Linked DNA regions of Homo sapiens. The protein of the gene in region 1 purifies or fractionates together with the protein of each later gene. This does not show direct contact. Each region holds a gene or a part of one and is shown on either strand. Other genes may lie near its edges.

Evidence for each region. Proteins that work in one complex are often made in the same cells at the same time.
Region 2: the proteins of IFNAR1 (region 1) and TNFRSF10B purify together in Homo sapiens (affinity purification with mass spectrometry; one large-scale study listed by BioGRID and IntAct). This does not show direct contact.

Annotation. Positions count from the first base shown.
Region 1 is NC_000021.9:33,344,470-33,349,646, reverse strand, and holds part of IFNAR1 (interferon alpha/beta receptor 1 isoform 2 precursor), read right to left. Parts: intron 4,402-5,177; coding exon 4,287-4,401; intron 557-4,286; coding exon 357-556; intron 259-356; coding exon 104-258; intron 1-103. UniProt on the Homo sapiens protein: Together with IFNAR2, forms the heterodimeric receptor for type I interferons (including interferons alpha, beta, epsilon, omega and kappa).
Region 2 is NC_000008.11:23,027,532-23,031,869, forward strand, and holds part of TNFRSF10B (tumor necrosis factor receptor superfamily member 10B isoform 1 precursor), read right to left. Parts: intron 3,342-4,338; coding exon 3,228-3,341; intron 2,191-3,227; coding exon 2,079-2,190; intron 1,072-2,078; coding exon 800-1,071; intron 223-799; coding exon 191-222; intron 1-190. UniProt on the Homo sapiens protein: Receptor for the cytotoxic ligand TNFSF10/TRAIL. The adapter molecule FADD recruits caspase-8 to the activated receptor.

The sequences.
Region 1 (5,177 bases):
CATAAAGTTTAAAAATTTCCCCCAAATTTTACATTCAAGCTTTATTTACCCAAATCATAATTATAACTCTAAGTTACAAAATTATACTATACAGTCTTTTTACCTCAGCATTTGAAGTGTTTTCCCAAAAAATAATTTCATAAATCAGTGGATAATCCTGGATCACAGGCGTGTTTCCAGACTGTTTTGGAGCACCGATATAGATATGGAATGAATCACTAAGGGATCTAATGTTAAAGACTGGAGGAAGTAGGAAAGCTAGAAAAAATTTGTAAAGAAATAATGTTCAATTAGAAAAACAATTTTAAAAACTTGCACCAGAGAATTACAATCTCCAGTAAAAACTACTGCCTTACCTTGTATTTCAGTATCAAACTTTATCTCTTCAGACCAAAAAGATGTGTTATTTCCATCAGATGCTTGTACGCGGAGAAGGTAAATTCCTTTTTGGAAAACGTTTTGAGGAAAGACACACTGGGTAGTTTTGACATTTTCACAGTCAGGTATTTGTTTCCATTTATACAAATGGTTTCCAGGATTCCTTTTTAAAAAGGCGCTTTTAAGACAAATATTTTTTAAATTCATTAGATATTTATTAAGTATTTACAATTGCCAGACACTATGTTAGGGGCTAAGGTTACAGAAATAAATAGTATCCACACTCAGGAAACTCACAAACAATGGAAGAGATATGCATCTAACATAAAAGAAAACCAAAGACTGTTCCAGACTGTGGTCATGTTGTGCTCTGCTGGAGGTGGCTCATATCAATATGCAAGAACATCTGTTAGTTAGAATTTCCAGGAATGCTGCAAGCTGGTTTATTTTTTTTGGCTTTTTTTTTGAGACCGAGTCTCGCTCTGTCACCCAGGCTGGAGTGGAGTGGTAGGATCTTGGCTCACTGCAACCTCTGCCTCCTGGGTTCAAGCAATTCTCCTGCCTCTGTCCCCCTGAGTAGCTGGGATTACAGGTGCACGCCACCAGGCCTGCCTAATTTTTGTATTTTTAGTAGAGATGGGGTTTCGTCATGTTGGCCAGGCTGGTCTTGAACTCCTGACCTCAGGTGATCCACCTACCTCGGCCTCCTAAAATACAAACTGGTTTTTAAAGAAAAACCATTACTAAAAATTAAGTTATATAAATTTGCAAATAAAAAATTGTTTTAAAGACAGAGGTAATAAATAAATTCATCTTGTCCTAATTATTTTACTACATTTTATTTTCTAAGCTCTTGGGGCTATCTTTATCTATTGTAGCTATATGATAGTGGTGTGCTACTGTGCATATGTTCCCAACTCCATATTCAGGGACATCAGGCTGGTGGCTTGAAAGTGGCCATGGTGGGAATATTTATATCATAAAAATCAGCAAACACTACAAAATAGGACTTTTTCTTTCTGGAAAGCCAGCTGCTAAACATGCGCCAGCATACCAATGGACACTGATTAAGTGCTAAAATAGAGACACACTGCGGGGTTATAAGAGCAAGTATAAGTACGAGACTAAAGAGGTTAAGTAACTTGCCCAGAAACCAACAGCTAAAAGCATCTCAGTTCAAGCCCAGAACTCTAATAGCCTCCTGACTGGTTTCCTTATCTCTCTTTAGTGTCTCCTTAGTCCACTCTCCCACATACCATGTCGCCGCATGCACCTTCCTCAAATCCAGAGCTCAGGTTAACTATCACCCCAACACAAAATCCCCAAAAGCCTACAGGACAGCCTGAGGTTGACCCTAATCTTGTCCCATTCTACTTATTCAGCTTTCTTCCCATTGCCACCTGGTGTCCAAATGTTCTGCTACTCTAGAAGGACATCCTCCCCACTGGAGAAGGCAAAATTCTGAGATGGCCCCCAAGATTCCTGCCCCCTGGTGTACACATCCTGTATAATCCCCTCCTCTTGAGCATGGGCAGGACCTGTAAATACGATGGAGGCCCTCCTCTCATAATTAGGTTACATTAAGTGGCAGAAGAGAAGGTATTTCACAGATGTAATTAAGGTCCCAAATCAGTTGAATCAAATGAGAGACTATTCTGGGTGGGCCTGACCTAATCAGATGAACCCCTTAAAAGAGGATCTAGGCCAGGCATGGTGGCTCATGCCTCTAATCCCAGCACTTTGGGAGGCTGAGGTGGGCAGATCACTTGGGGCCAGGAGTTTGCGAACAGCCTGGCAAACATGGAGAAACTCCGTCTCTACTAAAAATACAAAAAAAATGGCTGAGCGCGGTGCCTCACGCCTATAATCCCAGAACTTTGGGAGGCTGAGGCGGGTGGATCACCTGAAGTCAGGAGTTCGAGACCAGCCTGGCCAATACGGTGAAACCCCGTTTCTACTAAAACTACAAAAATTAGCTGGGTGTGGTGGTGCACACCTGTAGTCCCAGCTACTTGGGAGGCTGAGGCAGAAGAATCACTTGAACCCAGGACGCGGAGGTTGCAGTGAGCTGAGATCATGTCACTGCACTCCAGTCTGGGTGACAGAGTGAGACTCCGTCTCAAAAAAAAAAAAAAAAGGATCTAGAGGTCAGACTCTCCCTTCCTGATGGCCTCTAAGAAGTGAGCCACCATGAGCTCTAGAAATAAATTCTGCCAACAACATGTGAGCTTGGGAGCGGCCCCCAAGTCTTGTATGAATGACTGACTCCTTGACTGCTTAGCAGAAGAGCCAGCTAAGCCACGCTTGGACTCCTGACTCACAGAAACTTTGAGACAATAAACAGCTGTTTAAGTTGCTAAGTCTGTGGTAATTAGTTACAGACACAGAAAACTAACATCTAATAGTTGTCTACTTAAAAAAAATCTGAATTAACAATCAAGGCCTTGTTCATACCTTATCTCTTTCCTTATGGCTTCTTTGGTCTCTTTAGCCCCTATTCACCTTTACATTTTCAATTTCTGCAACCCTTATAATTTGTATACCACTCTTTAGTCCTAAACCACACAACACTTTGCAATGTTGGCTAACTGCTTTCAATTTTTGAACCACGTTTGATTCTGCTGACTCTTTCCATTTCTTCAGTGCTTTGTACAATATGGTAAGTACCCAAAAGAAGCTTAGAGATCAGCTATCAGAAATACCTCTCATTATCTATTTGGTGACCCTATTATTTATTCACTTCTGAAAGTGAGGTATACACAAAAGACTACTGAACAGTTTCCTGATTGGTTTGTGAGGTTATATATGCATTGTGGGGCACATATGCACATAAATGCATTTGCATTCTACCAGTCACCCTTGGTTCAAAATTAACACTAAAAGATAGAAATTGATCATAGCGGTACTTACACTTCCCTTCTCCCTCATTTTTTCTGTTTCTTTCCAGTTTCTTCTGACTTTTCCTTTCCTGTCTTAGCTATACTTGCCTTTGCTCTCTCTACTCCTCTGCCACCAATGTATATCTTTCTTTCCATCTCTTTTCTCCCCATAACCCATTTTTCCTTCTACTTAATTTTCCTCTTCTCTTTTCTCTATTCATCTCCTACAATTTTCCAATCAATATAAACTACATGCAGTTCTCTTTTATCAGCTTTTTAAAAATTTTAATGCTTAGAGATGGGGGTCTCACTATGTTGCCCAGGCTGCAGTGCAGCGGCTACTAGCAGGTGTGATCATACAACACTGCAGCCTCAATTCCTGGCCTCAAGTAATCCTCCTGCCTCAGCCCACTGAGTAGCTGGGACGATAGGCATGCGCCACTGCACCAGGCCAGTTCTCTTTCATTTATGCAGCGCCTGGACTTCATCCATGTTTAGCTAGCCTCTGCTCAACCACATAGAACATAGTTCTTTCCAACTTTCTTTCCCACCGAAGTATCTACTACAAAATTTTGTCAAAACCACTAAAGTAATAAAGAAAATAGGAAGGCTAATTTTTTGAATTGAACAAGTGAGTGGACTGAGATCATTTTAAGGACTCATGGAAGAAGTGAGTTCTTAGAAAAAGATCAGGGTCAACTGTCGAGTCTTCCAGATTGGGGAAATAACACATGCAACTAGTTACACTTTCTTTTTTTTCTTAAGCCAGTAAGAACCCCAGATATTAGAATCCATCTATTTTACAAGTGAAGAAATTGAGGCCCATGGAGGTTAAGCGATTAGCTCAATGTCATCCAGTTAGTTACTGGCAGAACTGGGGTTAGAAATGAGATTTCTCACGTTTCCAATATATCGTACCCACCTCCCAGTCGGTCATTCTGTGTGCAAGGACCTGGTGACTGATGCAGAGCGAAAAGAAGCATAATCAAAACAAACTGGGCAAAAGGAAATTTATGGAATGGAACTTACTGGAGCCACTGAACTTGAAAGGTCATGTTTGCATATGTATAATCCCATTTAAGAACATAGTTCTGATTTTGGACACTGACTTCTATATTTTCTGGTGGAGGTAGTTCATTTTCAACTAGAAGCCAAAGAACAGATAAAAAAAAGCACACATTTTTACTCAAGTGAGATAACTGGCAAGAAGATAAAGGCTCGCATTTTATCATTATAAGGTAATAGTTAAATATGGTTTGTATTCACACTATGTAATACTATGCAGCCATTTGAAAGACTACAGGCCGGGCGCAGTGGCTCACACCTGTAATCCCAGAACTTTGGGAGGCTGAGGTGGATGGATCACCTGAGGTCAGGAGTTCGAGACGCGCCTGGCCAACATGGTGAAACCCCATTTCTACTAAAAATACAAAAATTAGCCAGGCATGATGGCACACGCCTGTAATCCCAGCTACTCGGGAGGCTGAGGCAGGAGAATCGCTTGAAGCTGGGAGGCAGAGGTTGCGGTGAGCCGAGATTGAGCCACTGCACTCCATTCTGGGCAAGAGAGTGAGACTCTGTCTCAAAAATAAATAAATAAATAAATAAATAAATAAATAAATAAGTAAAAAAGAAAGAATGCAATAGATGGCTAAGATCAAATGAAGAACGTAATAGATCTGTATTGAGTGATATAGAATATCCCCAACACACTGGGTTAAGTAAGCAAGCTGTAAAATACTTCTAGTAAGATTTTATTTTGTAATTTTAAAAAACAAAACCCAAGAAACTGTGGGTCTGTGTATATGCTTACATAAATCCTGAAAAAAGTTGTGAAAGGATATACACAAACTGCTAAGCAATGCTTATCTCTAGTGAATGGAATTGGGGATAAGAAGGGAGAAGAAGACTTCACTTTAA
Region 2 (4,338 bases), on another chromosome or scaffold:
GCAGGGCTCACCAGCCTATGTGGTGCTCAAAATGGCCATGTGTCCCCCACAGTCAGCCCAGAGCACCCAGGCCACTTCAGAGAGTCAGGGCAGCCATGAGGACAATGGGGACCCACCCACCCAGGTTCTGCTGTCCCAGGAAGCAGTTCCTGAACCCCTGAGCCCCCAGCTCCTGGAGAAATCAACTCACTCTGTCCACACGCTCAGGGTCCCCACCACCACCTAAAAAAGAAGCAGTCTCCTTAGCAGGAAGGGAGGGGCCCATGAAGCACCCCCCTCCCAGAGGACAGTGGGGCGCAGGGCTGGGCTGGGGGCTGGGACACTGGACAAGGAGCCCTGGGGCTGGGGACAGAATGGGGCCTTACAACTCAGAGACACCCTGAGGAAGGGGGATGAGAAGGGGAACTAGAGTAAAAACAAACACTTGGAAAATCTCTGGTTCTGCTCTGACCAAGGCTGAAAAAATCCCACGACCACTTCTCATCCTCACCCTTGTCACCCAGTTGAGGAGCCGACTGCCCCCTGCCTGGCTGGGCCTGAAGATGGGAGGAACTGGCCCTGCCCTCCTGGACTTGGCTGGGAGATATGGGGACCCCCAGACCTGGGAGAGGGACTGAAGAGACCAGGGTCCTGGGGGGTGCACGGGATGTGGGGATGGGGGTGACCACGAGGAGGAGGATAGAGCCAGGCTGGAGGCACTTAGACTTGGGGCAGGGGCAGGCGTTTCTGTCTGTGGGAATAGGGTGGGAGGGGGCAGGGCAGAGAGTGCCCTGTGCCCCCGCCCTCAGCCAGCACCTACCTGAGCAGATGCCTTTCAGGTAAGGAAGGACTTTCTTCCACAGTAAAGACTTGCAAACAAACACAGCCACAATCAAGACTACGGCTGCAACTGTGACTCCTATGATGATGCCTGAGAGAGAACAGGGAGAGGCAGGAGTCCCTGGGCTGGAGGTCACCGTCTCCTCCACAGCTGGGACTTCCCCACTGTGCTTTGTACCTGATTCTTTGTGGACACATTCGATGTCACTCCAGGGTGTACAATCACCGACCTTGACCATCCCTCTGGGACACCTGGGTACACACACAGAGGGAGAGGGGGGACTCTTGATGGAAAGCTGGCCAGGTGGGATGAAAGAGGAGCCACCCTCCCTCCCCAGTGTCCCTGAGAAGGTGTCAGGGGAAGGACAGTCTCCTCGTGTCAGCAGTGGGTCCCCCTGTGCTCCCTTCTTGAGGCTGGGGAAGGGTCTGAGCATGCGCACTTCAGCCCCTCGGCCTCCCTGCTCTGGGGTCAGAGCTGCAGTTCCAGGAGCCTTCTGTGCTGGGCACACACTGAGCTTCCCTGGGCTGCAGGGGAGGCCTGCGTTAGGAGCAATCACACTCCAGGGGAAGGTCACAAGCCCGTGTGGCCACAAGATGAGTCCGGTCTTCCAGTCAACCACAAAAGTGAGCTCTTGTCCCCAGCTGTCTGCCCATTTCCCCCAATCACAGCAAATACTAGGGGGGCCAGAGAAGAGCAAATTACTCTTGGCCCCTAAAACCCAAATAGGGAAAAGACAGGTCTTACTGAGGGATCAGGGGCCAGGGGTGAGGCCGGCTGGGTGGGCTCAGGTCCTCATGGGAACTTGAAGGAGCTCCACCCATGGCCTTATTATGCCTTTTGTGGGCCATGGGCACTTTTGTCTTTATGGGCCCCTGCATGCATAAAAATATTAAAAAATACATTTTATTGCTGAATTGGTATAAAGATGAATATATGCCTGGCTGCATTCTACTCATTCTTCTTATTTCAAGAGAAATTAAATCATTTCATGGGCCCCTAAAATTATCATGGGCCCCAAGTCATGGCCTTCTGTGGTCAGTGAACAAGTCAGCCTGGTCAAGGGGACTCGTGCTGGGGAGGGGTGGAAAGAGGCTGCTGCAGGGGGCAGGGGTGGTGACACGCAGAGGGACCAGGAGGGGCAGCCACAGCCTCAAGGATGCCCCTTGCGGGTGCTGTCAGGGGAGAGACAGGGGTACAAGGAGACTTGGGTCTTTTGGGGTTCCATGGAGCTACTGGGAGCCCCCGGCTCCTGTCTCACCCTGTGCGGCACTTCCGGCACATCTCAGGAGAATCTTCTTCCCGGAAGGTGCCTTCTTCGCACTGACACACTGTGTTTCTGGTCGTGGTGCAGGGACTTAGCTCCACTTCACCTGACGACAGAGCATAAGGTTTTGGGAATGTGTTTTCCTGATGTGTCCCTTGACCCTTCCTCCCCACCCCAAGACCCTGCTACTCAGCTCAACTCAGTTTGCCAAGGAGTTCTGAGGGCCAGTTTCTGCACCAGCACACTCATGGCTCATTCAGGATACCCACCCTTCAGCTGTCACTAACACTCGTTGAGTCATACAAAAGGACCACAGTTCATTATTTATTACATTAGATTAGGGGAAAGCACCGTTTAGGGGACAAGCATCGTTTAGATTGCATGGCCAGTAGCAAGGGAAGTGCAAGGGATCACCTGAGAGACTGCAAGGAGAGGAGCCCTTGGGGGACTTCCCCAAGGCCCAGCCTGCTGGGGAGGAGGGAGAGGCCTGAGAACCTGAAGGGTGAGTGAGGCCGAGCACCTGCCAGGAGCACAGAGCCCAGGGGAGAGAGCCTGGCCCCAAAGCAGACCTGTGCCACTGCTGAGATCCAGCCCTGTCCACTTGGCCTGGCTCATGGCCCCACCCCCTTGCAGCTGACAGTTTAAAAGATTTCCTTACCATGTAGCATACATTATACAAATAATTTCTGTATTATTATTATTTTAATTAATTATTGAGACAGGGTTTTGCTCTGTTGCCTGGGCTGGAATGCAGTGGCACAATCTCGGCTCCCTGCAACCTCGGCCTCCTGGGCTCAAGAGATCCTTCTGCCTCAGCTTCCTAAGTAGCTGGAAATACAGGCACGCGCCACCATGCCCGGCTAATGTTTATATTTTTGTAGAGACGGGGTTTCTCATGTTGCCCAGGATGGTTTCAAACTCCTGGGCTCAAGTGATGCCTCCCAAAGTGTTGAGATTACAGGCATGAGCCACTGTGCCGGGCCTGTTTTATTTATTAAAAAGCTCAAAGACAAAATCATGGAACATGGTATGATGAAGACCAAGGTGGACCAGAATCTAGGTCTCCTGATCCCATTTTAGCTACAACTTTTATGTCATCACCCCGCATTCCACCTTTAGGCATGGGGTCCATATGTTCTGTACCTGAATCACACCTGGTGCAGCGCAAGCAGAAAAGGAGGTCATTCCAGTGAGTGCTATAGTCCTGTCCATATTTGCAGGAGATGCAATCTCTACCGTCTTCTGAGATATGGTGTCCTGGGAGGGGAGAGAAAAGCCGGTGAATGAAATGCCACAGGATTCCCAGAAGCTGGCAGTGGTGGCTGGGGGACTCCTCTTTCAGGGATGTGTGGAACCAAAAGAGGGAAATCTCCTCTACCTAGCTTGGTCAGTTCATCAATTCTGCATTTACACACCTTAAACCAGCACTGCCAAAAGAAATATAAGCCACACATTTATTTATTTTATTTTTTATTTTTGAGACGTAGTCTCACTCTGTCACCCAGGCTGGAGTGCAGTGGCGTGATCTCGGCTCACTGCAACCTCCGCCTCCTGGGTTCAAGAGATTCTCCTGGCTCAGCCTCCTGAGTAGCTGGGATTACAGGCACACACTACCACACCTGGCTAATTTTTGTATTTTTTTAGTAGAGACAGGGTTTCACCGTATTGGCCAGGCTAGTCTCGATCTCCTGACCTCATGATCTGCCTGCCTAGGCCTCCCAAAGTGCTGGGATTACAGGCGTGAGCCACTGCACCCGGCCTATTTATTTATTTATTTATTTATTTATTTATTTATTTAGACAGGGTCTTGCTCTATAGCCCAGGCTGGAGTGCAGTGGTGTGATCTCAGCTCACTGCACCCTCGACCTCCCGGACCCTCCCTCTCCCCCCGACCCACAAATAGCTGGGACTACAGGTGCACACCACCACACCGGGTTAATTTTTAGTGTACTTTTTTTTTGTAGAGACGAGGTTTCACCATGTTGCCTAGGCTGGTCTCAAACTCCTGGGCTCAAGTGATTCACTCTCCTTGGACTCCCAAGGTGCTAGGAATACAGGTGTCAGCCACTGTGCCCAGCCCACATATGAAATTTAAATCCACACTCAGCACATTAAAAAAGGTGAGAAGGGGTGAAATTAATGTTAATAATGCATTTTAATTTAATGTACCCCAGATAATATCACTTAAATATGTAATCCACATAAAACATTGAGATATTTTACAGCATTTTTTTCACAGTACGTCTTCAAATCC